Regions from separate parts of the Homo sapiens genome. Here all the other regions are linked to region 2. The links come from fine-mapping of genetic effects on gene expression. A gene starts in region 2. Each other region holds a variant in brackets. All regions are shown on one strand. Distances are from middle to middle. Region 1 overlaps PHLPP2 (PH domain and leucine rich repeat protein phosphatase 2). Region 2 holds the start of PHLPP2 (PH domain and leucine rich repeat protein phosphatase 2). Region 3 overlaps IST1 (IST1 factor associated with ESCRT-III).

Region 1 (11,276 bases), 29 kb before region 2:
TTATGAGCAGAAAACTATTACTAAATACTTATAAGAGCCAAATTCCGAGGCTGCCACAACCTTTCAGACCCAGAGCCCAGGAGGCCCACAGACCTTCTGATCATTTTATGTTTCTATTCTGTATTTGTAAGCTCAGCTAGGTCTTTTCATATTTTTATTATTATTTTTTTTAAGAGACAGGGACTCACTCTGTCACATAAGGCTAGGATACGGTAGCACGATCACAGCTCACAGCAACTCGAACTCCTGGGCTCAAGCCATCCTCCTCCCACCTCAACCTCCCACCAAGCAGTTGACACTTCAGGCGCCACACCACTACACCTGGCTTTTTTTTTTTTTTTTTTTTTTTTTGAGACGAAGTCTTGCTCTGTCTCCCAGGCTGGGGTGCAATGGCATGATCTTGGCTCACCACAACCTCCGCCTCCCAGGTTCAAGCGATTCTCCTGCCTCAGCCTCCCAAGTAACTGGGATTACAGGCACCCACCACCATGCCCAGCTAATTTTTTAAAATTATTTTTAGTAGAGACGGGGTTTCACTATGTTGGCCAGGCTGGTTTTGAACTCCTGACCTCAAGTGATCCGCCCACCTAGGCCTCCCAAAGTGCTAGGATTACAGGCACGAGCCACCGCACCCGGCCAAGACAGGGTCTTGCTAATGTTGCTCAGGCTGGTTTCAAACTCCTGGCCTCAAGTGATCCTCCCACCTCAGCCTCCTGAGTAGCTGGGATTACAGGCACAAGCTACCACGCCCAGCTTATTTATCTTTTTCATACATGTATTCTATCAATATTGCTGTGTATTTGGATCAGAATGGATGCCTGATCCAAAGTGTGAATTCATGAGGTAATTTTGTCTGGAAGTCTTCCAGACAAACTCAGATTGGTTTATGACAGTCAAGATTCAAAACAGAGTAAAATCATGTATAGATAGCTTCCTAAAAATATTAACATATCTGTTTATGGTCATTTGTCATTCATTCTGTTTGACTAACAAGTGAACTCCTTTCCTGGGATGGAGACTCCTCTAGGACAGATGGAAGAAATGGCATGGCTCCCTGGCTGCTGGATCACAACTTATGACTACCTCAGACTCTGAATTTTAATTTAATTGGGGGGGAAAAAAAACCCCGAAAGAATCTATTTGGTGATGGATGCTGGCAGCTACTTCTAATTTCCAAAGGCAGCTTCTAATGGTAGCATCCACTGTCTACTCTGGCTATTGTGAGCCCCAGAATCTAATGCCTAGCAGTGGAGGTGGGGATGTCTTGAACAGATAGTTCTGCAACAGGATTTGGGGCATAATAGCCTCTGAACCTCTGAAACAGTCTCTGATATAATCTTTAATAATGCCCATACTGGCTTCTTTGAAAAGATATGACTAAAAGCTATGAAAAGCATTATGTGATATTTTCTTAATTAAGATGATCAAATGAAAAATAATTCATCTTTGTGAGTCTTACCTTTCCACCAACCAGAGGCAAAATGTGCATCTTTCCAGTTTGACAATCCTTCACTGAGGAAACGATAAGGCAGGTACCACAGAGGACAACTAGGCGCTCAGCCCACTTATGCAGCTGGGTCTTTCCCTTGCGTACATTATAGATGCCAGACAATAGGATTCGATCCAAACGATCCATGTGGCATGGTTTTTCTGAAAAGGAAATAATACTTCAGAATCCACCATTAAAGTAGTGTAAGAATACAGAAATGGAAAAAGAAAGCATTGTGTGTCAACATTCAACAACCTTATTTATAGATATAAGTAACCAAGCAATATAGTTAAGACAAAATTAGATCTAGTCCATCACTGAATTATATACAGTAGGAGTACCTTTGAATTTTGGTCTATGAAGCAAAATTGTACTTTGGATGCCATTGTTACATTAACCCTTCTTCCAACAGCCATATCTCCTATGTACCCAGAGAAAGGCAGTATGGTAGAGTGGTTAAGATCATGAACTCTGAAGTCAGAGATACTTGAATTTGAATGCTGGTTCTGTCACTTTGTTTACTTGAACTATTTATTCTCATTACGCTTTACTTTACTCATTTATACAGTTTGAATCTTAACACAACCTACCTTCTGGGGATTCTTATAAAAATTAAGTAAGATGGCCAGCTGCAGTGGCTCCCGCCTGCAATCCCAGCACTTTGGGGGGGCCAAGGCGGGCATATCACAAGGTCAGGAGATCGAGACCATCCTGGCTAGCACGGTGAAACCCCGTCTCTACTAAAAATACAAAAACAAAAAAATTAGCCGGGCATGGTGGCGGACACCTATAGTCCCAGCTGCTCAGGAAGCTGAGGCAGGAGAATGGCGTGAACCCAGAAGGCAAAGCTTGCAGTGAGCCAAGATCATGCCACTGCACTCCAGCCTGGGCGACAGAGCAAGACGCTGTCTCAAATAAATAAATAAATAAATAAATAAATAAATAAATAAATAAATAAATAAATAAGGAATATAAAATACTAAGCATAGTTTTAGGTACAAAAAGAACATGGAATAAATGACAACCACTATTGTTACTAATCTACCCTAGAAGGAAGAAATTAGTAACTACAGGAGTACTCTAATTTTGTACATAATCCTCCATCTCTCTGCCACTAATATGGAAAAGCTTATGGGTGGTACTTCAATCAACTATTCCGATCACGGTGGTGGAAATTCTACTTCTCATCAGAGGCCTTCATGACTGAGATACAGTGAACAAAACAGCACATAATAACAGAAAAGACGTGAAGTTCTTGGTAAGAGCACTATTAAAAGAAGTGTGCACCTGTAGTCCCAGGTACTCAGGAGGCTGAGGCAGGAAGACTGTTTGAGCCCAGGAGTTCAAGGCCAACCTGGACATCATAGTAAGACCCTGTGTCTTAAAAACAAAAAAAAACAAAACAACAACAACAAAAAGGGACAACTAACTATACACAGAAATGAGCAGGAGTAGCAGTATGAGGTGGTCCAAACAGTAACACAGAAGTTGGAAAGACTGGGTTGTACTCCTGGTATTATTACATAATTTTTTTTTTTTGAGACGGAGTCTTGCTCTGTCGCCCAGGTTGGAGTGCAGTGGCGCGATCTCGGCTCACTGCGAGCCCCGCCTCCCAGCTTCATGCCATTCTCCTGCCTCAGCCTCCCGAGTAGCTGGGACTACAAGCACCCGCCAACACGCCCGGCTAATATTTTGTATTTTTAGTAGAGACGGGGTTTCACTGTGTTAGCCAGGATGGTCTCCATCTCCTGACCTCGTGATCCGCCTGCCTCGGCCTCCCAAAGTGCTGGGATTACAAGTGTGAGCCACCGCACCTGGCCACTTAATTGTTTATACAATTAGGTATCACTTTGCCTATTTAAATTAGGTATCACTTTGCCTATTTAACTTAGGTATCACTTTGCCTATTTAACCATGTGTTTCCCATATACAATATGAGGAAATGAGCTAGATTACTTCAAAGCCTTAAAATTGTATTATTCAATAAAACTTTGTATATTAATACACTATACAGGATAAGCATTTCACCTTCTATTCTAGGTCAATCCTTTCATCTATACAGTCGTTCCTTGGTATTGGCAAGTGATTGATTCCAGGACCTCCCCAAGGATACCAAAATCCACAGATGCTATAGTCTCTTATATAAAATGAAATGGTATTTGCATATAACCTACGCACAACTTCCTGTATAATTTGAATAATCTCTAGATTACTTATAATATCTAAAACAATGTAAATGTTAAGTAAATAGTTGTTATGCCATATTTTTCTTTGTTTTTTTATTTTTTTAAAATATTTTTGATCCATTGTGGATATGGACGACTGACTGTATTCTAAATTCCACCTTCCTCAGAGAGTTTGGTTCTCCCAGATCTATATTCCTAAGTTCTAGTTCCACATTTCCAACTATCCAGATATCTCCAACTACATGTTTACCATCACTTAAAATTCAACATGCCTGGCCAGGAGCAGTGGCTTATGCCTGTAATCCCAGCACTTTGGGAGGCTGAGGCGGGCGGATCACGAGGTCAGAAGTTCAAGACCAGCCTGACCAACATGGAAACCCCATCTCTACTAAAAATACAAAAATTAGCCAGGCATGGTGGCGTATGCCTGTAATCCCAGCTACTCAGGAGGCTGAGGCAGGAGAATCGCTTGAACCCAGGAGGCGGAGGTTGCAGTGAGCTGAGATCGCACCATTGCACTCCAGCCTGGGGGACAAAGCGAGACTCTGTCTCACAAAAGAAAAAAAAGATCAACATGCCTAAACCAAGTCATCACCATCCCTGTACAGCAGCAGCTCCTTCTCACAACTCAAGCTCATCTCCTGAAGTCACCCATGCTCAAAACCTCAGAAGCAGCTTCAACTCTTGGGTTCGCTTTCTCAACTTCTCTTTTCAATCAATCATTAAGTCTTACTGATTACTCCTTCAAAAAGTCTCTCACATGAACAATTCCTTCCTATTCCCTAGTTCAGATCCTTATCAATTCACACCTGAATCACTATCCACACTGGCACCAGACTGATCTTCCCTGGGCTCACTTGGATCCCATCACTTCCTGCTACCATCTGCCAAATGACGGCTAAACTCCTGATGGAGCACCCATGGCCCAAAACAATCTGGACTCAAATTAACTGTGATTCATGAACATGCAATGAAATTTTTAATCTCCCACGGCTGCCTTCTTTTTCATTTCTGCTTAGTGAAACGTTGTCAATTTTTAAAGAACCAACTCAAATACAACTTCTTCACAAAGACTTCCCCCAATTTCTTGACATCTCTGATTTTCCAGAGAACAGGGACAGAAAACTTTCCTATCAGCTAGCAAAATATATCATATATGTATATTAGTAAAAATCTGGCCAGGTGTAGTGGCTTACAACTGTAATCCCAGCACTTTGGGAGGCCCGGGCAGTTGGATCACTTGAGGCCAGGAGTTCAAGACCAGTCTGGCCAACATGGCAAAATCCCCATCTCTACTAAAAACACAACAATTAGCTGGGCGTGGTAGCAGGCACCTGTAATCTCAGCTACTCGGGAGGCTGAGGCAGGAGAATCGATTGCACCAGGGAGGTAGAAGCTGCAGTGAGCTGAGATCATGCCACTGCACTCCAACCTGGGTGACAGAGCAATACTGTCTCAAAAATAATAAAATAAAATAAAATAATTTTTAAAATTGACTGGCTGGATCACCTGAGGTCAAGAGTTTGAGACCAGCGTGACCAACATGGTGAAATCCCATCTCTACTAAAATACAAAAATTAGCTGGGCATGGTGGCAGACACCTGTAATCCCAGCTACTCAGGAGGCTGAGGCAGGAGAATTGCTTGAACCTGGGAGGCCGAGCTTGCAGTGAGCCGAGATCATGCCATTGCACTCCTACCTGGGCAACAGAGCAAGACTCCGTCTCAAAAAATAAATAAAATAAATAAATTGACTAAACAGTGACTAAATAAAAATTTTAAACTTATGCACAATAAAAAGTAATAAATAAAATAAAAAGTTACAGGCTGGAAAAAAATTGAGTCACAAATATAGTACCCAAAAGATATATATTCAGAATACATGCAGAAGTCCTTTAAATCAATATGAAAAAAGAGAAACAGAAACATGTACAAAAATATCAATGAGTAGTTCAAAGAAACTGAAAGATCCAATAAAAATATGAAATAATTCTCAATCACACTAGTAATCAGGGGAAAAAAATTTAAACAAAGAGACCATCATTTTTTAAATTTTTTTTTTTATTTTTGAGACGGAGTCTTGCTCTGTCGCCCAGGCTGGAGTGCAGTGGCTCGATCTTGGCTCACTGCAAGCTCCGCCTTTTGGGTTCACGCCATTCTCCTGCCTCAGCCTCCCGAGTAGCTGGGACTACAGGCGCCTGCCACCACGCCCGGCTAATATTTTGTATTTTTTAGTAGAGACAAGGGTTCACTGTGTTAGCCAGGATGGTCTCGATCTCCCGACCTCATGATCCGCCCGTCTTGGCATCCCAAAG[T/G]GCTGGGATTACAGGCATGAGCCACCGTGCCCAGCCAAGACCATCATTTTATCTATCAGATTAGTAAATATTTTAAAGCCTAATAATATTGAAAGGTTATAGGCAAAGGGGTACTCTGTTATACTGACAGGATATAAAAGTGTTCTGCAGTAGTAACTATTAATATTTTAAACGTGAGTAACCTATAACCCAATAATTTCATTCTTAGAGATCACTCTGAAGGAATACAGGTGCATAAAGAGATAATTTTACTAAAATGGCTGTTTTAACCGTCCAAAACTGGAAACAAAGTAAATGTCCATCACTAAGGAGATGGTTACACAGACTATAATGCATACATGATGTCCAATACTATGCCCCTGAAAGAAATGTATACAGGGCCGGGCACAGTGGCTCATGCCTGTAATCCCAGCACTTTGGGAGGCCAAGGCCGTCGGATCACCTGAGGTCAGGAGTTCAAGACCAGCCTGGCCAACATGGTGAAACCCCGCCTCTACTAAAAATACAAAAATTAGCTGGGTGTGGTGGTAAGCCACCTGTAATCCCAGCTAGTTGGGAGGCTGAGGCAGCAGAATCGCTTGAACCTGGGGGGTGGAGGTTGCAGTGAGCCGAGGTCATGCCACTGCACTCCAGCCTGGGAAACAAGAGTGAGACTCTGTCTCAGAAAAAAAAAAAAAAAGAAATGCATACAGAAGATGGTTCTGCAAATGCTGACAAGGTAAGATCTCCAAGACAAACTCTTGGGTGAAAAAAGCATGAAGACCAATACCAAATAATACCATTTATGTAAACAAAATCCATATGGTTCTATGAATATATACTATATAAAAATAATCAAGTTGGAAAATTCTGAACAGATATACACCAAATTGATGGTGGTTATCTATAGAGCAGTTAATGGACTTAGGAGGTGATTATAACAAATTAAAACACCACAGATAATGACACCATAGTCATATTACACTTGTGTAGTTAAACACCCAATGTTTTAAATGCAAAAATATATGAACAATAAATAAAAATATAAAATATGCATATAAAATAAGACTAAGAAAATACACAATCATAAAAATAATTGTATTAGGGTGGTGGAATGTTTTTCTACCACGTTACTCCTATATTTTAACAAAGAAGCTTTAAATATGCAAATTAACATGAGATAGTATTTTTGCAATCGGGGAAAAGATGATACCTGATGTTGTCAAAGGTGTAGGGAAATAAGTACTCTCAAATTCTACCAAATCAACTACACACTAGTAACACCTATTTGTGCAACTTGGGAATGCTCAGTCAAAATTTTAAATGTGGCCGGGCGCAGTGGCTCACGCCTGCAATCCTAGCACTTCAGGAGGCCAAGGTGGGCAGATCACCTGAGGTCAGGAGTTCGAGACCAGCCTGACCAACATGGTGAAACCCTGTCTCTACTAAAAATACAAAAACTAGCCAGGCATGGTGGTGGGTGCCTGTAGCTCCAGCTACTTGGGAGGCTGAGGCATGAGAATTGCTTGAACCCAGGAGGCAGAGGCTGCAGTGAGCTGAGATTGCACCCGGCCTAGACGACACTGCACTCCAGCCTGGGCCACAGTGAGACTCCATCTCAAAAAAAAAAAAAAAAATTCTACTTGTAAGAATCATGTCCTCTTCCCTGCACTCCTCAGTCACTCCCTTGACTTTTATAATAATTTCCTTGCTCTCTTTATATTTTTGCCACTTTCGTATATATCCTGTATTAACTATGGCTGTAGCAAACAATATAATGGCTCAAGCAACAGGAATTTAATTCATTCAAGTGAGCATTCTGTTTTGCCAGGGGTTAACACTGTCATTCAAAAACTCAGGTTCTGGCCACGCACAGTGGCTCACACCTGTAATCCCAGCACATTTGGGAGGCCGAGGTAGGCGGATGACTTGAGGTCAGGAATTCGAGACCTGGCCAACATGGTGAAACCCCATCTCTACTAAAAATACAAAAATTAGCCAGCTGTGGTGGTGGGTTCCTCTAATCCCAGTCACTCAGGAGGCTGAGGAAGGAGAACTGTTTGAATCTTTGAGAGGCGGAGGTTGCAGTGAGCTGAGATGGCACCACTGCACTCAAGCCTGGGCGACAGAGCAAGACTCTGTCTCAATAAATAAATAAATAAATAAATAAATAAATAAATAAATAAATAAAAAGAAACTCAGGGTCTGCAATTTTCCACACTTGACTTCAATTATTGCTCTGATTATTGCCATCCTAGCCCACCAGACAGGAAAAGAGCACCACAGCCCTGAGAAGCACACACTGGGGGTTTTAGGAACCAGGTAGAAGTGGCGCACATCAAGTCCACTCCATACAATGGAAGAAAATTTTGTCACATGTACACACCTAACCGCAAGAAAGGCTGCGAAATGGGCTGTAGCTAGGCAGTTATATGCCCCACTACAATTTTGTTACTATGAAAGAACAGATTTTGATAAACAATAGTATTGCCACACATTTCAAAATAATATGGCTGTGTTTTAGCCTGTTTTCTGAACTTTAAATGAATGGAAATATACGATGTAATTCTTTTGCGTCTGGCTTCTGATGTTTGTATTTATGCTCTTTTGACAAAGCTGTTTTAAACAATATGTGCAGAGAATGCAGTACACAGAGAAACGTTCAGGCAGGGAGTTGTGCTACCTGAGCCATACAGTCCCAGAGCTACAACTTCCCTCACAAATCATACCCTCTATATGCCACTTTCTCCAACGCAAATAAGAGGTTTGCTCTTTCTCTCTCTCTCTCTCTTTTTTTTTTTAAGGTGAACAGGAAGTAGGATTTTTTTTTTTTTTTTTGAGATGGAGTCTTGCTCTGTCGCCCAGGCTGGAGTGCAGTGGCACCATCTCAGCTCACTGCAAGCTCTGCCTCCCGGGTTCACACCATTCTCCCACCTCAGCCTCCAGAGTAGCTGGGACTACAGGCACCCGCCACCACGTCCAGCTAATTTTTTGTATTTTTAGTAGAGACGGGGTTTCACTGTGTTAGCCAGGATGGTCTCAATCTCCTGACCTCGTGATCCGCCTGCCACAGCCTCCCAAAGTGCTGGGATTACAGGTGTGAGCCACCGCGCCCGGCCCAGAAAGTAGGATTTATTGGTGAGCATTAAGAGGGGGCAGCACAGTGGAAGCCCTCACAAGAGCAGGGCCCGCCACTTGTCCAGAGGGCCACTACTGGGGATGTAACTGACCCCGCAGCCATCTGGGATGAGCTGCTTCTCAGCCCCCATGTCTTCAAATTCATCTGCATTGAACTTGGTAAAGCCCCACTTCTTAGAGATGTGGGATCTTCTGGCAACCAGGGAACTTCAACTTGGCCCTACATAGGGCCTCAATCATGTGCTCCTTGTTATGCAGCTTGGTGCAGATGGACATGGTAACTTGGCCAATGTGAACCTCGGCCACAGTGCCCTGCGGCTTTCCAAAGGCACCTCGCATACCTGTTTGGAGCCTAGACTGGGGATAGCACAAAGTCAGAGACATGAACATCCATCTGAAAGGCCTGTCTCTAAGGTCCCTTAGAGCAACCCATACAAGAAACAGGCTGAGTACGCTACCAAGGAAGCTGCTGTGGGCAGCCATTGTACACTGGGCCTCCCTGAGGAAAGGAACTCAGTTGGCTTAACTGTCTGCAGAGGATTTACATGCTCTCTTAATCCCATGATTAATCATGCTACCTACTCAACTTGACTTTAGTGAAATGTTATCTCCACAGCTTTTATATCATGAATTCGAACTGAGAGAGCCATTCCACTCACTTTTCCCCCAGCACTCCCTCTCCAGCAAGACTGATAACTGGCATTTGCATAATGGCTGACTGGGACACTACCCAGTGTCCTTTTATAACCAGAGAACACAACATTAACTGGTTCGCACTCGGGCCCTTATGACCTTGGCTTTATTAACACTATATTCCAAATAAGCTGATGCACCAAAAATTCTACACATAAAATATTTGAAGCTGATTACTAAGCTATTTACTTCAAAGAGAATACTTCAACTCTTTCCTTCCGTAACAATAGTTGTGTCTGGTTTCAGGAACTGGGTGGTTGGAGGAAAAAGGTGAGAGGGAAGCATATTTTCTATGATAGTTTTGATAGAGACAGGAGGCAGAGAAATTCTAGGCAGACAGGGACAGGTGCCCAGCAAAACCCCACCTTCGAGCCAAAAAGCCTGAAACCTGTGGCCCAAAGTGAGAATTTCCATCCCTGTTTGTCTGCTCTCTCCTGAATGGTTCTTTCTGAGTGTCTTTTTACCAATCGAATGTTGCCTTTTCCAAAACTACCTACAGCACCTCCCATCCTGTGCCCATGAAGACCCCAGACTCAGCGAGCAGAGAAGAGAAGCAGCTGGACATCAGGGAGAGGCGACTTGACTTCAGAAGACAGTGGCAGGGAGGCAACTTGACTTCAAGGGAGAGTGAGCTGCCCTTCCCATTCCCTTTCCAGCTCCACTCTTCACTGAGAGCTGCTTTCATCATTCAATAAAATTCTCCGCATTCACCATCTTTCAATTTGTCCACATGACCTCATGCCTCTTAGGCACCAGACAAGAATTTGGGACGCACCAAGTGCCGGTATTCAAAAAGGCTGTCACACTGGCCCTTTACCCTCACTGGTGGAAAGCAGCCGCCCTACGCAACAAGGCAAAGGGACCACTGACCTGGTAACACATTGCCGTCTGCAGATGAGAGAGGTAAGAGAGCATTATAACATGTCCTCTGGGGCCTTGGGATCACAGACACCCCCACCTGGACGCTGCTGCAAGCCTACACAGAGTTTGCTTCTGCTGGTGCTAAAGCAGGCAGCCAGTTCCTGCACTCGCTCTCCTATGCGCTACATCCCACAAAGGGTGGAGCACAACAGACCCCAGTGAACACGGTTTGTTCCCACCAGCGTCCAATCAGCTAGCCAGTTCACGCACTCATTCACCTGCGCATTCCCTCCCACAAGGGGTTGAGCGGGGTGGGCTGAGTAAATGGGGTACCCCTGTCACAAGTCCCAAAGAGGGGTCAAGAAAATATCCTGCATCAGTTTTATTATAGATCCGGCTGCTCACAGTGGCTCGTGCCTGTAATCCCAGCACTTTAGGAGGCCAAGATAGGAGGATCACTTGAGCCCAGGAGTTTGAGACCAGCCTCGAGCCATGAGCAACATGGCGAGACCTCAGCTCTACAAAAAATACAAAAATTAGCCAGGTGCAGTGGTGCGCACGTGTAGTTCCAGCTACTTGGGAGGCTGAGGTGGGAGAATCATTTGGGCCCAGGAGG
Region 2 (11,276 bases):
GCAATCCAGCCTGGGTGACAGTGCAAGACTCTATCTCAAAAAAAAAAAAAACAAAACACATGCCTGTAATCCCAGCACTTCAGGAGGCCAAGGAGGGAGGATCACTTGAGGTCAGGGGTTCAAGACCAGCCTGGGCAACATAGTGAAACCGCGTCTCAAAAAAAATTAAAATAAAATAAAGATTAAAACAACAACAACAAAATATACACGCTGTTGGTCATCATTTACCTCAAAGGATCTATCTCCTGTCTACATGATACATTCCGCCCTAAGAAGATAAACTGCTAAGTTACAACTTCAGTATATATCATTCTCTTAAACCTGACCGATGGGCACTTAAAAGGCCTGGATATTAAGCAAAGCAAAGGCTTACAGCAACAATCTAGATGGACTGTTTAGCTGTTATTAGCCACTGCTGAATTGCCTAGTGCTTCCTTCTTCTCAAGAATGTCTTGCTCCACTGCTTAACACATCAGTTAACTGCTGGAAAAACCTTCCTAGGAGCCAGGACTGCAGATGACACGGTCCTCTGAGGTGCTTTCAACTTTTAGAATCACCATTCTACTGGAATTGCTAGGTTGAGAAAATTATTTTCCCCTTACTCTTATAGAATTGTTATCACAAATTTATTTGAAAGGGAACACAATGACAATTACCTCTTACATCAAACAAGTATACAAAGAGCGTATTTTAGATTTAAAGATCTTTCTAGCCGGGCGCAGTGGCTCATGCCTGTAATCCCAGCACTTTGGGAGGCTGAGGCGGGCAGGATCACCTGAGGTCAGGAGCTCGAGACCAGCCTGGCCAACGTAGCAAAACCCCGTCTCTATTAAAAATACAGAAGAATTACCCGGGGGTGGTGGCACGCATGCCTGTAATCCCAGCTACCCTGGAGGCTGAGGCATGAGAATCGCTTGAACACAGTAGGTGGAGACTGCAGTGAGCGGAGATCACGCCACTGTACTCCAGCGTGGGCTACACAATGAGGCTATCTCTCTAAAAAGTATCTTTTTTAATTTTTTTGGCATTAATTGTTTATACATACTTTGCTCAACACCCAAAACTATTCTTGAAAAAAAAAAAAGAATCTCATGACACACACCGACATTAGTTGTAACTTCGTATCTTCTATAAGCTATGGGCCTGGGTGACACAAGGAGACTCTGTCTTTAAAAAAAAAAAAAATCTTTCTAGAAGGCAAAAGTCTTGAGGGTAAGCCATGAATTAAATACCCACTGCTTCAATTTTACACTTTTGTTTGTTTGTTTTTTTGGAGACAGCATCTCCCTCTGTTGCCCAGGCTGGAGTGCCGTGGCACGATCTCGGCTCACCGCAACCTCCACCGCCCGGGTTCAAGCGATTTTCCTGCCTCAGGCTCCTGAGTAGCTGGGATTACAGGTGCACAACACCATGCCCAGCTAATTTTTTTTTTTTTTTTTTTTTTTTGAGACGGAGTGTCGCTGTTGTCCAGGCTGCAGTGCAGTGGCACAATCTCGGCTCACTGCAGGCTCCGCCCCCCGGGGTTCATGCCATTCTCCTGCCTCAGCCTCCCGAGTAGCTGGGACTACAGGCGCCCACCACCTCGCCTGGCTAATTTTTTGTATTTTTAGTAGAGACGGGGTTTCACTGTGTTAGCCAGGATGGTCTCGATCTCCTGACCTCGTGATCCACCAGCCTCGGCCTCCCAAAGTGCTGGGATTACAGGCGTGAGCCACCGCGCCTGGCCACGCCCAGCTAATTTTTAAAAATATTTTTAGCAGAGACGGGGTTTCACTATGTTGGCCAGGCTGGTCTTGAACTCTTGGCCTCAAATGATCCACCCGCCTCGGCCTCCCAAAGTGTTGGGATTATAGTAGTTAGCCACTGTGCCCAGCCCAGTTTTATACTTTTAACTCTAAAAGTGTTCCATGAGGGCAATGATCAGTTCAAAGGTGATATACTATTACACACTCACATACAATAATAAGATATACATGGTATAAACAGGGTCTGGTAAAGTAACTCTCCATATTCAGTTAGTTCTGCAAGAATGTGAAATACGGCCGGGTGCGGTGGCTCATGCCTGTAATCCCAGCACTTTGGCAGGCTGAGGCAGGCGGATCACCTGAGGCCAGGACTTCAACACCAGCCTGACCAACATAGAGAAACCCTGTCTCTACTAAAAATACAAAATTAGCCAGGCGTAGTGGCACATGCCTGTAATCCCAGCTACACGAGAGGCTGAGGCAGGAGAATCGCTTGAACCCGGGAGGCGGTGAGCCAAGATCGTGCCATTGCACTCCAGCATGGGCAACAAGAGCGAAACTCCACCTCGGAAAAAAAAACAAAAGACGAAAAAAAAAAAAACAATGTGAAATACTCTTAGGTAGAAGATGTTTCTGCATTCAAAACTTTAAAACAATATAGACTCATATCTGGGAATACACACGTTATTAAATATTGTGAAAGCGGTGGGGAGGGATGGGATGAGATAGAGAAAGAATATGTCAGCGCTTTAAAAATGTTTTGGGGCTGGGTGCGGTGGCTCATGCCTGTAATCCCAGCACTTTGGGATGCCGAGGAGGGACAGCCTTTAAGCCCAGGAGTTGAAGGCCAGCCTAGGCAACAAGGTAAGACCTCATCTCTACTAAAAAAACAAAACAAACAAACAAAAAAAAAAACGTGCCTATGATCCCAGCTACTCAGGAAGCTAAGGCAGGAGGATCACTTGAGCCATGATCGCGCCACTGCATTCTAGCCTGGGCAAGAGAGAGGCTCTGCCTCAAAAAAATAATAACAATAATAACGTTTTGGGCTGGGTGCAGTGGCTCATGCCTGTAATTCCAGTGCTTTCGGAGCCCAAGGTTAAGAGGATCACTTGAGGCCAGGAGTTTGAGATCAACATAGCAAGACCCCATCTCTACAAAAATAAAAATAAAAATTAGCCAGGCATGTGCCTATAGTCCTAGCTACTTGAGAGGCTGAGGTACTTGAGCTCAGGAGTTTGAACCTGCAGTGAGCTATGATCACACCACTGCACTCCAGCGTGGGCTACACAATGAAGCTATGTCTCTAAAAAAAAATCTTTTTAAATTTTTTTTGGCATTAATTGTTTATACATACTTTGCTAAACACCCAAAACTGTTCTTGAAAAAAAAAAAATGAATCTCATGACACACACCGACATTAGCTGTAACTTCCTATCTTCTATAAGCTGAGTAAAAAAGTTAATCATTACTAAAAAAAAACCATAAACCCCAAATTGTAGGAAACACCTGGAAAATTTACAAACCTATGGTCCAGCAATTCGCTAAATAAATCTGGGGGCACATTTTGAAGGAAATTTTCCAGTATCCCAGGATAGATGGAACTGGATCTAGTCTGGCTAAGTTAGACTGGCTTAGTTATATTAGCCTTTTGAAGAATATCTGTATTATCTGACAATAATGTTCATGATTTGGTATTAGGTATAAAAGAGTTACAAAAAAGAATGAAGTTTTGGAAGGGTCTTCAGAGAAAAATGAGTGGGAGATGACTCTTCCCAATTCAGAGTATTCTACTGTAATACTTCTTTTCCAGCATCACTTGGCACAATTCAACCACTCAGCTACTTAACAAAACTGTATGAGGCCGGGCGTGGTGGCTCATCCTTGTAATTCCAACACTTCGGGAGGCCAAGGCGGGCGGATCACTGGAGATCAGGAGTTCAAGACCAGCCTGGGAAACATAGCGCAACCCTGTCTCTACTAAAAATACAAAAAAATCAGTGGGGTGTGGTGGCGGGTGCCCGTGATCCTAGCTACTCAAGAGGCTGAGGCAGGAGAATCGCTTGAACCCTGGAGGCAGAGGTTGCAGAGATCGAGTCACTGCACTCAGGCTTGGGTGACAGAGTGAGACCCTGTCTCAAAAAATAAATAAAAAGAAAAAAAACTGAGAGGCAGTAGCACAAAAAATGTTTTATATTTTACAGAGTTCTAGTTTACGTTGTTCCATGGATTCACTGGGTTCTATTATTGTTTTTCCGTGTTCCCATCTTTGTAACATCGTACTAACCTTCATAACATGTAAATACTGCTGAACCTCAATCCCAATAAACTACTAAAGGATTTTTAACATCATACGTTTTGTTTTGCAATGTATTTTTGAAACACATCAAATTTAAATTTTCTTTCCTTTCCATCCTTCTACTGGGCAAGTTTCATATCCTGAATTCCTCATGTAGAACTCTAGAAGGAATTCCATTCCACCTGCGGAAGGACACCTAGTTTACGTATTTGACCTACAGAAAAATTTCTCTGCAACTCTTTCAAATGCTAGTAAAAAACTCCACCCAGTCAGCCTCCCACAACCCCTCCCTTTAACCATCTTCTCCTCCCCACTATCGCCACCCTACCTTGTGCATTCCTTCGTAAACTTACTTCTCATCACCTTCAAGGTTCCACTCCCCTCTTGCCTACATCTGTTTTCATATCCTCCCACTCCCCCAATTCCTGCCAAGAAGCCCCGCTAGCTGCCTGTTGCATAACGGCTCCCCCATTCCGTCTCCCTCGGCAGTCGGCCCCGCTCCCGGGAGCAGGAATGCCCCTTTCGGCCCGGCCCCTCCTCCCTTCCGCAACACGCCCAGCAAGTCCCCGCGACGCAGCTCCAGCGGGGATTCTCTCTCCAAGCTGGGCGGGTCGTCCTTGCCGGCTGGCACCTCGGGTAGCGAGCCCCGAGGGCAGAGGAGCCGGCTCCACCCGGCCTGGCCCCGAACCCTCCGCGGCGCCGGCCAATCGCCGCTGCCATCCTCCCGCTGGGGTGATGTCTTCAGGTGTCCGGGAGGGGAGAAAGCCCTGCGTACTTCCAGCCCCGCTCCTGTGCCAGGAACCGGCGGCCCTCCGAGCCCTCCGGAGCCGGCCTCCGGGCCCCGAGCGCGGCGAGGCAAGCAGGGGCGGCGAAGGGTCCGGGTGGGCGGCGGCTACCCGCAGCCCAAAGGCGTGGGCCTGCGAGGCGGGCGGCGCGCGGCCAGGGATGGGCAGCAGCGGGGTACCGAGGCGCCGAGGCCTGGACGCGGGCGCGGCGCGGAGGCCTCGGCGTCCCCAGCCGGGTGTGGGGCGGCCGACTGACTGACGCCGGGCGGGGGCCGCCGACTGCCTCAGCCACTGCGCGGGGCGGGGGCGGCAGCGGCCTCTAGCCTCCCTCGTTCCCTCCCTAGTCCGCTTGCCCGCTCGCCCGCTCGCTCGCTCGCTGGTCCATCCGCCTCCTCACCTTCAGGACCCGGATCCCTCCCGGCCGGCGGCTCGCGGGCGCTTCGGGCGGCTCCGGGGGCTCCAGCGGGCCCGCGGGCCCCGGCTCCACCTCCCCCATCGGCGACCCAGGATTCACAGAGACGCCCGGCCCGCGCGACGGCGTGCGGAGCCTCGGCGGCGCGCGCGAGCAACCGGTGGCCCCGCCCCCCGCGGCCCGCCGGCTCCGCCCCTCCGGCGGCTCGCCAGCTCCGCCCCTCCCGCAGCCCCGCTGGACCTAAGCAGCTGCCGGCGCCGAGTGGCCCGGGCGCCACCGAGCCGCATTCCGGCCGCGGCCCGCGTGGCGGAACCTGGCACCACCGCAGAGCGCTGGGCCTCCACTGCCCGCCGCCCTAGGCTTGGAGGACTAGAGCGCAAGGAGGGGTATTTGCTGCTTTCCCCGCCCTCTAAGAAACCCGCGGGAGAAAGAAGCAGGTGGCGCCGGCACCTGTCAATTGTGACAAGACGCTGCCCTCCGCCAGGGTGGCTCTTGTAACTTCCCTCACCTGCCAAGCCGTTGAACGAACTGTTGAGAATACTCACCTTGGCAAGGCCTTTTCTCTTCCTTATCAGAGATGCGTGCGACCTTCTTAAGCAAATTCAACCCAACCTCGTACAAAACGTCCGCTCACCTCCCAGCCATGTTTTAATTCCCTTGCCTCCTCCTGGAGCAAAATTATCAGAATTCGGTGCTCTGCTTCAAGCAGTAATATGGCCTGTGACCCGGTTTATGATTTATTTGCAAGGCTGATTCAGAAAAAAACTTTTAAAAGTTAACTTCTTTTCTTTTCTTTGTTTTGTTTTTCTTTTCGTTCTCGCAGTGATAGTAGTTTTGTTGCCAATGGGCCAAATTTGGAGTCAGCCAGCCTGTTTCCAGATCTCCCCTCTGCCCTTCTTTAGATCTATACCCCTGTGCAAGTTACTTGATCTAAGCCTTTCGTTCTTAAGCTGTGAGAAAGAGATTAAAATCTGCCAAGTAGTTATGATGAAGATTTAGTGCATACAAAGTGCCTAACGTATAGTGGGGATCCATAGTAGCCATTATAATTCCAAAATTCTAAATTGAAGATCCAATCGGTTTCTCGAAAAGTACTCTGTCGATTCCTCCTAAATTTTCCTAGGAAGGCTTCTAGACTTCCAGATTTTTAGGGCTTCCCCTCATACATAGGGTGTTGAATCTTCAAGCAACTTGTAAGGAATTAGACAGCAAAAAACAGTAATTTCTTCACTTTCATAGAACTGTAATTCCAGTACTTTGGGAAGCCAAGGCAGGCAGATTACTTGAGGCCAGGAGTCCGAGACCAGCCTGACCAACATAGCGAAACCCTGTCTATACCAAAAATACAAAAAAATGAGCTGGGCAGGGTGGCGCACGCCTGTAATCCCAGCCACTTGGGAGGTGGAGGCAGGAGAATCGCTTGAACCCGGGAGGCGGAGGTTGCAGTGAGACGAGATCGTGCCACTGCACTCCAGCCTGGGTGACAAAGCAGGACCCTTTGTCCCTATTATCCATTGCTTCAGTTTGCCTCATTCAGACTAACTGTATGTCTAGAATAATTGCAGGCTTAGTACAAGACTTTTAGATTTAACAGAGCAGTCTGTGTCCCCCATCTGAGATATGTATCCATTTGGAGATATTTTAAATGCCAGGACCAAATTTGGCTCTTGCAGGTTCCGACCCCTTTCTGACCTACTTTCTCCCTTCACAAGTTAGCTTTGTATATACCAAAATTCCAATCTCCAGTAATCTTCATTTCTTGGCCTCATTTTAATGCATTAAAAACGATTTGTCACTGTGAGTCTGGTTTAAGGTGGGAGAAAACTCTTAGGTCATCCACCTCCTGGATTTTCCTTCCACCTTGAAATTATTTTCAGGAAAGGTACTCAAAGTAGTTGGATTCCCATTTCAGTGCTTACTGGGTAATTTCTCCCAACAAGAAAACTGGTATATAAGCAATAGGCACCAATATGGAGACAGAAGCAAATTTTAACAAGGGCAGGCAAGCAGTGATAAGAAAAAAATGTGGTTTAGAACAAGTGTTTCTGGCTGGGTGCAGTGGCTCATGCCTGTAATTCAGCACTTTGGGAGGCCAAGACGGGCAGATCACCTGAGGTCAGGAGTTTGAACCCAGCCTGGCCAACATGGCAAAACCCCATCTCTACTAAAAATACAAAAATTAGGCAGTGTGGGGGCACGAGCCTGTAGGCCCAGCTACTCAGGAGGCTGAGGCAGGAGAATCACTTGAACTTGGGAGGTGGAGGTTGCAGTGAGCCGAGATATCGCGCCACTGCACTGCAGTCTGGGTGACAGAGGGAGACTCTTGTCTCAAGGAAAAAAAAAAGTGTTTTTCAAAAGCCTTTTATATTTTTTTTATTTTTGAGACAGGGTCTCGCTTTGTTGCTCAGGCTGGAGTACGGTATGGACACAATCATAGCTCACTGCAGGTTCAACCTCCATGGGCTAAGGTGATCATGCCACCTCAGCCTCCCAGTAGCTGGGACCACAAGTGAGCACCACCCTACGCTTGGCTACTTTTTGCATTTTTTTTGTAGAGATGGGGCTTCACCATATTGTCCAAGCTGGTCTCGAACTCCTGAGCTCAAGCCATCCGCCCACTTCAGCCTCCCAAAATGCTGGGATTACAGGTGTGAGCCACCACACCTGGCTGTAAGAGTCTGTTTCTTGAGGCATTATACATTACCTTTTCCAGATTTCATGAGTAGAAGCTCTTTATTGACTGACTACACAAAAAGGAAAGATCTTGTTGCAGAACTAAAGTTTCAGCTCATGCTGGGGAACAGCAGTGGTGAATAATTGTTTAATTAAAGGGATAGTAGGCATAAGCATTGCTATTTACTTCTTCATTCTGGCAACAGTAGTTCCTCTTTCAAAAGGGAAAACATAAAAAAAAAAACCCATCCGCCCAAAAGTTTCAGGGGCTAATTTATGATGTAACTACCTTTAATGGTTCCCATGATTTAAGATCCAATTCAGTAGTGACAACCAGTTGATTTTTTTCAAATCATGTAGTGCCATTAACATTTTATACTTTGTTTCAAAGGTCACATATTGATGTTCTCCCCCAGTTCAAGGCACTGTGCATTATGTATGCCAAGGGTTATGTAACTACAATTTCTGGAAATGGTAAACAGCTGAGACTAACCCTAAAAATAAATTCCTCTGGGATTTTTTTTGTGCGAAAATCCATCTGCCCTCACTGCAGGTTCATCATTACAAAAATCACTGTTTAGCTCAAACCAAGAGACAGAGAAGTCATCATGATCTCTCCTTTCTGTCTCCTTCCTGTAGCAGCTGTGCTTCCCCTCTCTGGTATGTACACACGCACACACCTTCTTTATGCCAGGAGCTTTTCCAGATCTTCACTACAAAATGGGAAGTCTGGAGAAGGGAAGCTCATGCCTATCAGATGTTGGGAGAGGAAGCAGATGAGACTTATATTTACTTATTTATATCTAGTACGCACTCCAGTGATCCACAAAGTCATCTTTGGGCCTAAATCCCTTGTTATTCTACCAATAGGTTAAGCAGATTTGGATATTCCTAATTTTGGTTCCAAATAAACAGGCAGTGTTTACCTAGCTTCAAAGTTTGGAGAATTTTTCTGTGAACATTTTGATATTTTTCAAATATGGGGACAATTGAATTGACAATTGAAGACATAGGATAGAAAACCCTTAAAAGTGATAAAAATTAATTTGGTGCTTCTGAATTGAAATTCAGATCTGAATACTATTTGTTGTATTGTTAAATGTCTATTACTGGCTAAACTTTTCTATTTTCCTCTAATTACATGAAGGTGCCAACTAAATTTAATATTAGAAACAACTATGAATTTTAACTAACTCATACATAAGATTATAGAAATGTTGCTTATCAAACAGTACCAAAGGGCACTTCTGCATAAACTAGATAACTGCCAGGGCCTACACCCTTCCCCTTTTCAATCGGGACTATCACACTCTCCCCTTTCTCAATCAAGGGACTGTCAGGGATCATCAGAATAACAGAAAACCTAAAGCTACCAACCTCCAAAACACAGAGTTGACAGCCAGGCACAGTGACTCACGCCTGTAATCCCAGAACTTTGGGAGGCAGAGGCTAGTGGATCACTTGAGCCCAGGAGTTTGAGACTAGCTTGGGCAACATAGTGAGACCCTGTCTCTACCAAAGGAAAAAAAAAAATACAAAAATTAGCCAGGCATGGTGGTGCATGCCAGTAGTCCCAGCTACTAGAACGGCTGAGGTGGGAGGACTGCCTGAACCAGGGCAGTCAAAGCTGAAGTGATCAGTGACCGCACCACTGCACTCCAGCTGGGTGACACAGCGAGACTCTGTCTTAAAAAAAGACAAGCCAGGTGCGGTGGCTTACGCCTGTAATCCCCGCACTTTGGGAAGTTGAGGCAAGAGGATTGCTTGAGGCCAAGAGTTCAAGACCAGCCTAGGCAACATAGCAAGACCACATCCCTACAAAAGTTAATATATACAAAATACACAGTTCATATAAAATAGACCATGAAATATAACTCATTTTGACTGGTCAAGCCTTCCTCTGCCCAGTCACAGATACACTTGAAAAATTCACAAAAAGCAGCTTATAAAGAAAACCCATAACCACCCTTAATATACATTTCATCTTGGTTTCTCTGCCTTGAGAATTGACCTATGGAGATTAAGCATGAAATTAATCATATTATAGTTAAAATGTCCAATTGCACTTAGGACTTTTTTACTGTCTATAACACAAGTTTGTTGTTGTTGTTGTTTTTGAGATGAAGTTTCACTCTTGTCACCCCAGGCTGGAGTGCAATGGCGTGATCTCGGCTCACTGTAACCTCCGCTTCCTGTGGTCAAGCAATTCTCCTGCCTCAGCCTCCCGAGTAGCTGGGATTACAGGCATGCGCCACCACACGTGGCTGATTTTGTATTTTTAGTAGAGACAGGGATTCTCCATGTTGGTCAGGCTGGTCTCTAACTCCCAACCTCAGGTGATCCGCCCACCTCGGCCTCCCAAAGTGCTGGGATTACAGGCGTGAGCCACCGCGCCTGGCTACAAGTTTTTAAGTGATTCAAATTCCTCTCTTGGTGAGACTTATGTGTGAAAGGAATACTAACAGGTCAGTAAGTTAGCTCAACCTCTGGAATAAGAATTCATCTAAGTCTTCTAATCCAATTGTAAGAAGCAAGGAAGCAAATTTTAAATCATTGGGTATTGACTTTTTATTATTAGTCACTGTTCATAATTTGTTTCAACCAAAAGACAGTACACACAGCAGAATTCTAATGCATCCCATGTAAATGTTTACATCCATTTTATTCCTCACTCGCCTCTAAGACTTATCATTTAACTTTAAATTTTTTTTTTTACATCTCAAAAATATGTCTGCAATAATTAGAGCTTCATTAGCTGTCCCACTTGGAAACAGCTTTTTAATATTTTTACAGTAAAGAAGATGTGATGGGGCATAATGAAAATGTAACTTACAACACTAAGAAAGAAAAGGGCCTTTATAGGAACACAGTGGGAGTTCATAAAGGAAAGAGTTCAGAAGCTCTTTCCCATGGGGCCCCCAAATGGAAAACAAAAACAAAACACACAAAGCGCAACCGCAGGTTCTTTGAGGGAAGAAAAAAAAAAAAAAAAAAACCAACTCCAAGGCTCCATCTTGAAGCCAGAATCAGCCTCTTGGAAGTCTGTAAAGCAACTGTGCAAGCTGCTTCGGCATTTCCTTCTGTTAAAGTGTTCCAGGTCCTGGAACCCTGTCGATGGGACCCACTCACTGATATTGCTTGAAAAAGTTATTCACTTCCAGTTCTACAAGCAGCCCCACTCTCCCGAGCCAAAGCTGGTCAAAAGTGTTTTAAACTTCAGGACTTTCTGTGCAATTCTCTCTCCAATGATCCTACCCACTCCCAAAGTCATGAATACACAGACATGTAAAACCACTCTCCCAACTACAAAGTTCATGAACACCCACTTTTTCCTCTCTAGTTTTCTCAGTTTAGGACACTGT
Region 3 (5,000 bases), 200 kb after region 2:
TAATCTCAGCTACTCGGGAGGCTGAGGCAGGAGAATGGCTTGAACCCAGGAGGTGGAAGAGCTTGTGGTGAGCCAAGATTGTGCCACTGCACTCCAGTCTGGGTGACAGAGTGAGACTCCGTCTCAAAAAAAAAAACCATCCGCCAGTTAAGGTCAGTGGGGTGTGGTGGATGCTTTGGTGTGTACTGCTCAGACATCCCTATTACCCACAGTTGGAAACACCATCAGGTCCATTCCAGCTGCAGAAGTCATTGGGGAATTGGCTGAGGCCTTTGTTGTGACTGTGTTGCAGCCCAACTTCTCCTTCCACCTAACTCTGCCTTTTCTTCCCCCACAGGTGTTGATCCCAGAAGCACTCCAGTAAACTTGCTTTATGCTAATCTCCATCTCAGACTCCGCTTTCTGGGGAACCTGGCCTTGGACATGGGTTAATGACCTGGGTTTCTCTTTTTTTCTCAGGCAGAAGCTCCTCCTGGGGTAGAGACAGATCTTATTGATGTTGGATTCACAGATGATGTGAAGAAAGGAGGCCCTGGAAGAGGAGGGAGTGGTGGCTTCACAGCACCAGTTGGTGGACCTGATGGAACGGTGCCAATGCCCATGCCCATGCCCATGCCTATGCCATCTGCAAATACGCCTTTCTCATATCCACTGCCAAAGGGACCAGTAAGTATATATAAGTGTGGATGTAAGCTTTAGAAAATGTTATAGATAACAAGTTGGCTCTGTGAACACACTCAGGAATCATAGGTTGTCAGGAGCCATTAGCAGTAAGAACATTTGGTATTAGCTGGCAGTCATCTTGTGGGGAAAAAACACATTGGATTCAGAGAAGGTCTTCTAGTTCAGCTGTAGGAAAATCTATAGAGTTGGTGCTAGAAAAACACTTTTCATATAGGTTTACTGAATATCTTTGGGATCTGTTATAGTCATACTAGTAGTTTTTTCCACAAATGAATAAACCACCAATTATTACCAGGCAGAACAACCTTTGTAGATAAGATGGTCATTGGTAGTAAGAAAGTCTCGTTAGAGTTTTCCCTTGTAAACACTGAAGCACTTGATTCAATAAAGAATAGCCTTTGGCTCTAGATCTTTAAAAATCTGGAATCCTGACCACATGTGGTCCTTTTGGGCATTTTTAAGGATCTTGAATATTTATATATATTTAGTATGAGAATATAAATGTATTTCTTTCTCCCTTCCCATACCCAAACCTTCGAGATTGCAAACTGGAGGCAGTGTCTCTGATGTTGCCTTTCTCCTCTTACAGTCAGATTTCAATGGACTGCCAATGGGGACTTATCAGGCCTTTCCCAATATTCATCCACCTCAGATACCAGCAACTCCCCCATCGTATGAATCTGTAAGTGCCTGAGCCTCTTTTATAAGCAACAGGAGAGTGAATGCCATGAAGAGCGAGCAAAATAATGACCACAGGGAAGGCAGAGTTTTGATCAACTCCTAGTACTGTCATCATTTTTGCTTTGGGATTCTTGTGTTGCTTTATAACACTACCCTGGAAATGTGGAGTGGGTGGTGATGGCAGTATCATTGGTGGCAATGCTTTGTCTGCAATTAAGCCAGGAATCAGGAAGGAACTGCAGATTTCTTAGAAAGTTGTAGTGCTCTATGAGGGCACTTAGCCAGTTGTTTTGACCGACTAGGCAGATAATCACACTGAGCTGATACAATCGTGGTGCTAAAGTATCATAATTATTAAAATATTAGTCCTATGTGTTCTCAACACATGTAAAGGAAGAGTGACCAGATTGATCTTAATCAGAAATGTCCAGTTACATGTCGGCCGACAGCATTGATTTCACATTTTAGTATTCTAGTTAAAATTTGCTAATGAATAGCTAATATAATACCTCGAACTGTAGGTGGTTCAGGTTACTTGTTTTTGACCAGCCTTGTTTCTTCAGTTACTGTAGGCCTTTTGAGACCTGTCTCCATCTAGTATTTTACTGAGAAACAAATTGGTGTGGCATTTGCTATGTAAATTACTCATCTAGGAAGATCTTCCTGTTCCTGAGCTTGCTTTCTGTTCTTTCCTTTGGTTCCCATCTGTAGCTGATGTGTTCTACCTTGGGCCTGAGTTTTTCTTATGCTTTGGTTTTGCATGCGTCACATAACCCACAGCCGTTGGTAGGAATGAGGTCGAAAATCTTCATCAGTATTTGAGGACTTGGTTCTTAAGATATATTCAAGAATGCTTTCCCTTTGCCCAAAGGTGAAAGTATCATTAAAGTTGTCTTAGTATGGTAAGGATTTTTTTTTCTCTGCTTGGCAGTTAAGAGTTCAACATGGGGCTGGGCGGGGTGGTTCACGCCTGTAATCCCAGCACTTTGGGAGGCTTAGGCAGGCGTTCGAGACCAGCCTGGGCAACATGGCGAAACCCTGTCTCTACCCAAAATACAAAAATTGGCCAGGCATAGTGCTGCATGCCTGTGGTCCCAGCTATGCAGGAGGCTGAGGCGGGGCAATGGCTGGAGGCCAGGAAGTGGAGGCTGTGGTGAGCCGTGATTGTATCACTGCACTCCAGCCTGGGTGACAGGAGACCCTGTCTCAAAATCAAAGGAGTTCAACATAGTATCTACCTGATTGGAAAAAATGCAGGGGCAGTTTCTTTGGAACAGGCTCTGTTGCATTTGGTGAGCAACTTAACTTTTGGAAACACAGGGGCTTACACCAGTACTTTCTCCAGTGACACTATTGCTGTCTCCTCTGGTAACAATCTTTGTGTTTCAGGTAGATGACATTAATGCTGATAAGAATATCTCTTCTGCACAGATTGTTGGTGAGTAGTATCAATCAGAAACCTGCAGAGCTCAGTGCTGAACCCTCTGCTGTTTTCTCATTATTGTTCCTCCCTTAGAGACTGTTTCCATGTCCATGGACTTCTATCTGCATGCCCTGTTCTCTTCCCAAATGCTAAAATAGAACTCAGGATATCCTGCTTCTAAGTACAAATCCTAAGTGATAGCTCAGTG[A/AT]TTTTTTTTTTTTTTTTTTTGAGATGGAGTCTTGCTCTGTTGTCCAGGCTGGAGTGCAGTGTTGTGATCTTGGCTCACTGCAAGCTCCGCCTCCCGGGTTCACGCCATTCTCCTGCCTCAGCCTCCTGAGTAGCTGGGACTACAGGCGCCCGCCACCATGCCTGGCTAATTTTTTTGTATTTTTAGTAGAGACGGGGTTTCACCGTGTTAGCCAGGATGGTCTCGATCTCCTGACCTTGTGAGATCCGCCTGCCTTGGCCTCCCAAAGTGCTTGGATTACAGACATGAGCCACTGCCCCCAGCTGATTTTTTTTTTTTTTTTTTGAGACGGAGTCTTGCTCTGTTGCCCAGGCTGGAGTGTGGTGGCACAGTCTTGGCTCACTGCAACCTCTGCCTCCCGGGTTCAGGCTATTCTCCTGCCTCACCTCTTGAGTAGCTGGGATTATAGGCACACGCCACCACGCCCAGCTAATTTTTGTATTTTTAGTAGAGACAGGGTTTCACCACGTTGGTCAGGCTGGTCTTGAACTCCTGACCTTGTGATCCGCCTGCCTCAGCCTCCCAAAGTGCTGAGATTACAGGCATGAGCCACCGTGCCCGGCCAGCTCAGTGAATTTTGTAAAGCAATCATGTTCATGTAGCTACCACTCAATTAAAAAAGTACTGGCCAGGTGTGGTGATTCACATTTGTAATCCAAGCACTTTGGGAAGCTGAGGCAGGAGGATCACTTGAGGCCAGGAGTTTGAGAACAGCCTGGGCAAGATCCTTGTTTCCACAAAAAATTTTTAAAAAACCCATCTGAGCTTGGTGGTATGGACTTGTGGTCACAGCTACTCAAGAGGCGTTCTTAGCCCAGGAGTTCAAGATTACAGTGAGTGATCATTGTACTCCAGCCTGGGGGACAAAAGTGAGACCCTGTCTTAAAAAACAAAAATTAAGATAATACCTACCAGCAAAAACCAGAGGGAAGAATACTTTTAAAATTAGAGGCCGGGTGCGGTGGCTCACCCCTGTAATCCCAGCACCTTGGGAGGCCTAGGTGGGCAGATCACCTGAGGTCAGGTGTTCAAGACCAGGCTGGTCAACATGGTGAAACCCTGTCTCTACTAAAAATACACAAATTAGCTGGGTGTGGTGGCAGGCGCCTGTAATCCCAGCTACTCGGGAAGCTGAGGCAGAAGAATCTCTTGAACCCGGGAAGCGGAGGTTGTAGTGAACCAAGATTATGCCATTGCACTCCAGCCTGGGCGACAGAGTGAGACTTTGTCTAAAAAGAATATAAATAATATTAGACAGTTGTCTTATGGAGATACAATTTACATTTTAAAAAAACTCATAGTTTTTTTTTTTTTTAGGCAGTCTTGCTCTGTCACCCAGGCTGGAATGCAGTGGCGTGATCTCGGCTCATTGCAAGCTCCACCTCCCGGGTTCACGCCATTCTCCTGCCTCAACCTCCCAAGTAGCTGGGACTACAGGCATCCCCCACCACGCCTGGCTAATTTTTTTTTGTATTTTTAGTAGAGATGGGGTTTCACCATGTTAGCCAGGATGGTCTTGATCTCCTGACCTTGTGATCTGCCCACATCGGCCTCCCAAAGTGCTGGGATTACAGGCGTGAGCCACCACGCCCGGCAAACCCATACATTTTAAGTGTATACACAGACAATTCCACTCTCTGATCAAGGTATACAACATTACTCTTACCTCAAAGTTCCCTTGTTGCCAGTCAACTCTGCCCTTCCCTCCAGAGTCAGAGCACTATTTTGATTTTTTTGTAATTTAGTTTTCCTGAATCTAGAACTTAAGGAAACATACAGTAGATGTGTGTGGGGGCATGATCTTAATATAAAATACTAGATGGAAGACTGGAAATACAGATCAGACTATTATAACAAAATAACTTGGACATTATATTCCTTTAAAAAAACTTTGCCCCCAATCCCTAAAGAATGTTGGTTCTTAAGGAAGCAGTGTTTGTTCTATCAGAATCCTATTATCACTCC

What was found. PIP is the estimated chance that this variant, and not a neighbour inherited with it, causes the effect.
Region 1: its variant is fine-mapped to the expression of PHLPP2 in whole blood (INTERVAL, PIP 0.92).
Region 3: its variant is fine-mapped to the expression of PHLPP2 in monocytes (BLUEPRINT, PIP 0.95).

What each region holds. Positions count from the first base shown.
Region 1 is chr16:71,689,060-71,700,335 of GRCh38, forward strand. It overlaps PHLPP2 (PH domain and leucine rich repeat protein phosphatase 2), which reads right to left. Exons shown (of 19, transcript NM_015020.3): 4 at 1,460-1,650. It overlaps LOC124903712 (a long non-coding RNA gene), which reads left to right. Exons shown (of 2, transcript XR_007065109.1): 2 at 10,299-10,514. It overlaps SNORA70D (small nucleolar RNA, H/ACA box 70D), which reads right to left and starts at 9,642; the gene lies at 9,508-9,642. The variant T/G (reference allele first, on the strand shown) is at 5,990.
Region 2 is chr16:71,718,543-71,729,818 of GRCh38, forward strand. PHLPP2 (PH domain and leucine rich repeat protein phosphatase 2) reads right to left here and starts at 6,159. Exons shown (of 19, transcript NM_015020.3): 1 at 5,787-6,159. AP1G1 (adaptor related protein complex 1 subunit gamma 1) reads right to left here. Exons shown (of 23, transcript NM_001128.6): 23 at 10,458-11,276. RefSeq lists an enhancer at 4,496-4,997 and silencers at 4,763-5,732, 9,515-9,584.
Region 3 is chr16:71,922,015-71,927,014 of GRCh38, forward strand. It overlaps IST1 (IST1 factor associated with ESCRT-III), which reads left to right. Exons shown (of 10, transcript NM_001270975.2): 7 at 460-666; 8 at 1,274-1,366; 9 at 2,755-2,803. Among named protein-coding and RNA genes, the nearest start is that of IST1, 29 kb to the left of the region's middle. The variant A/AT (reference allele first, on the strand shown) is at 2,997.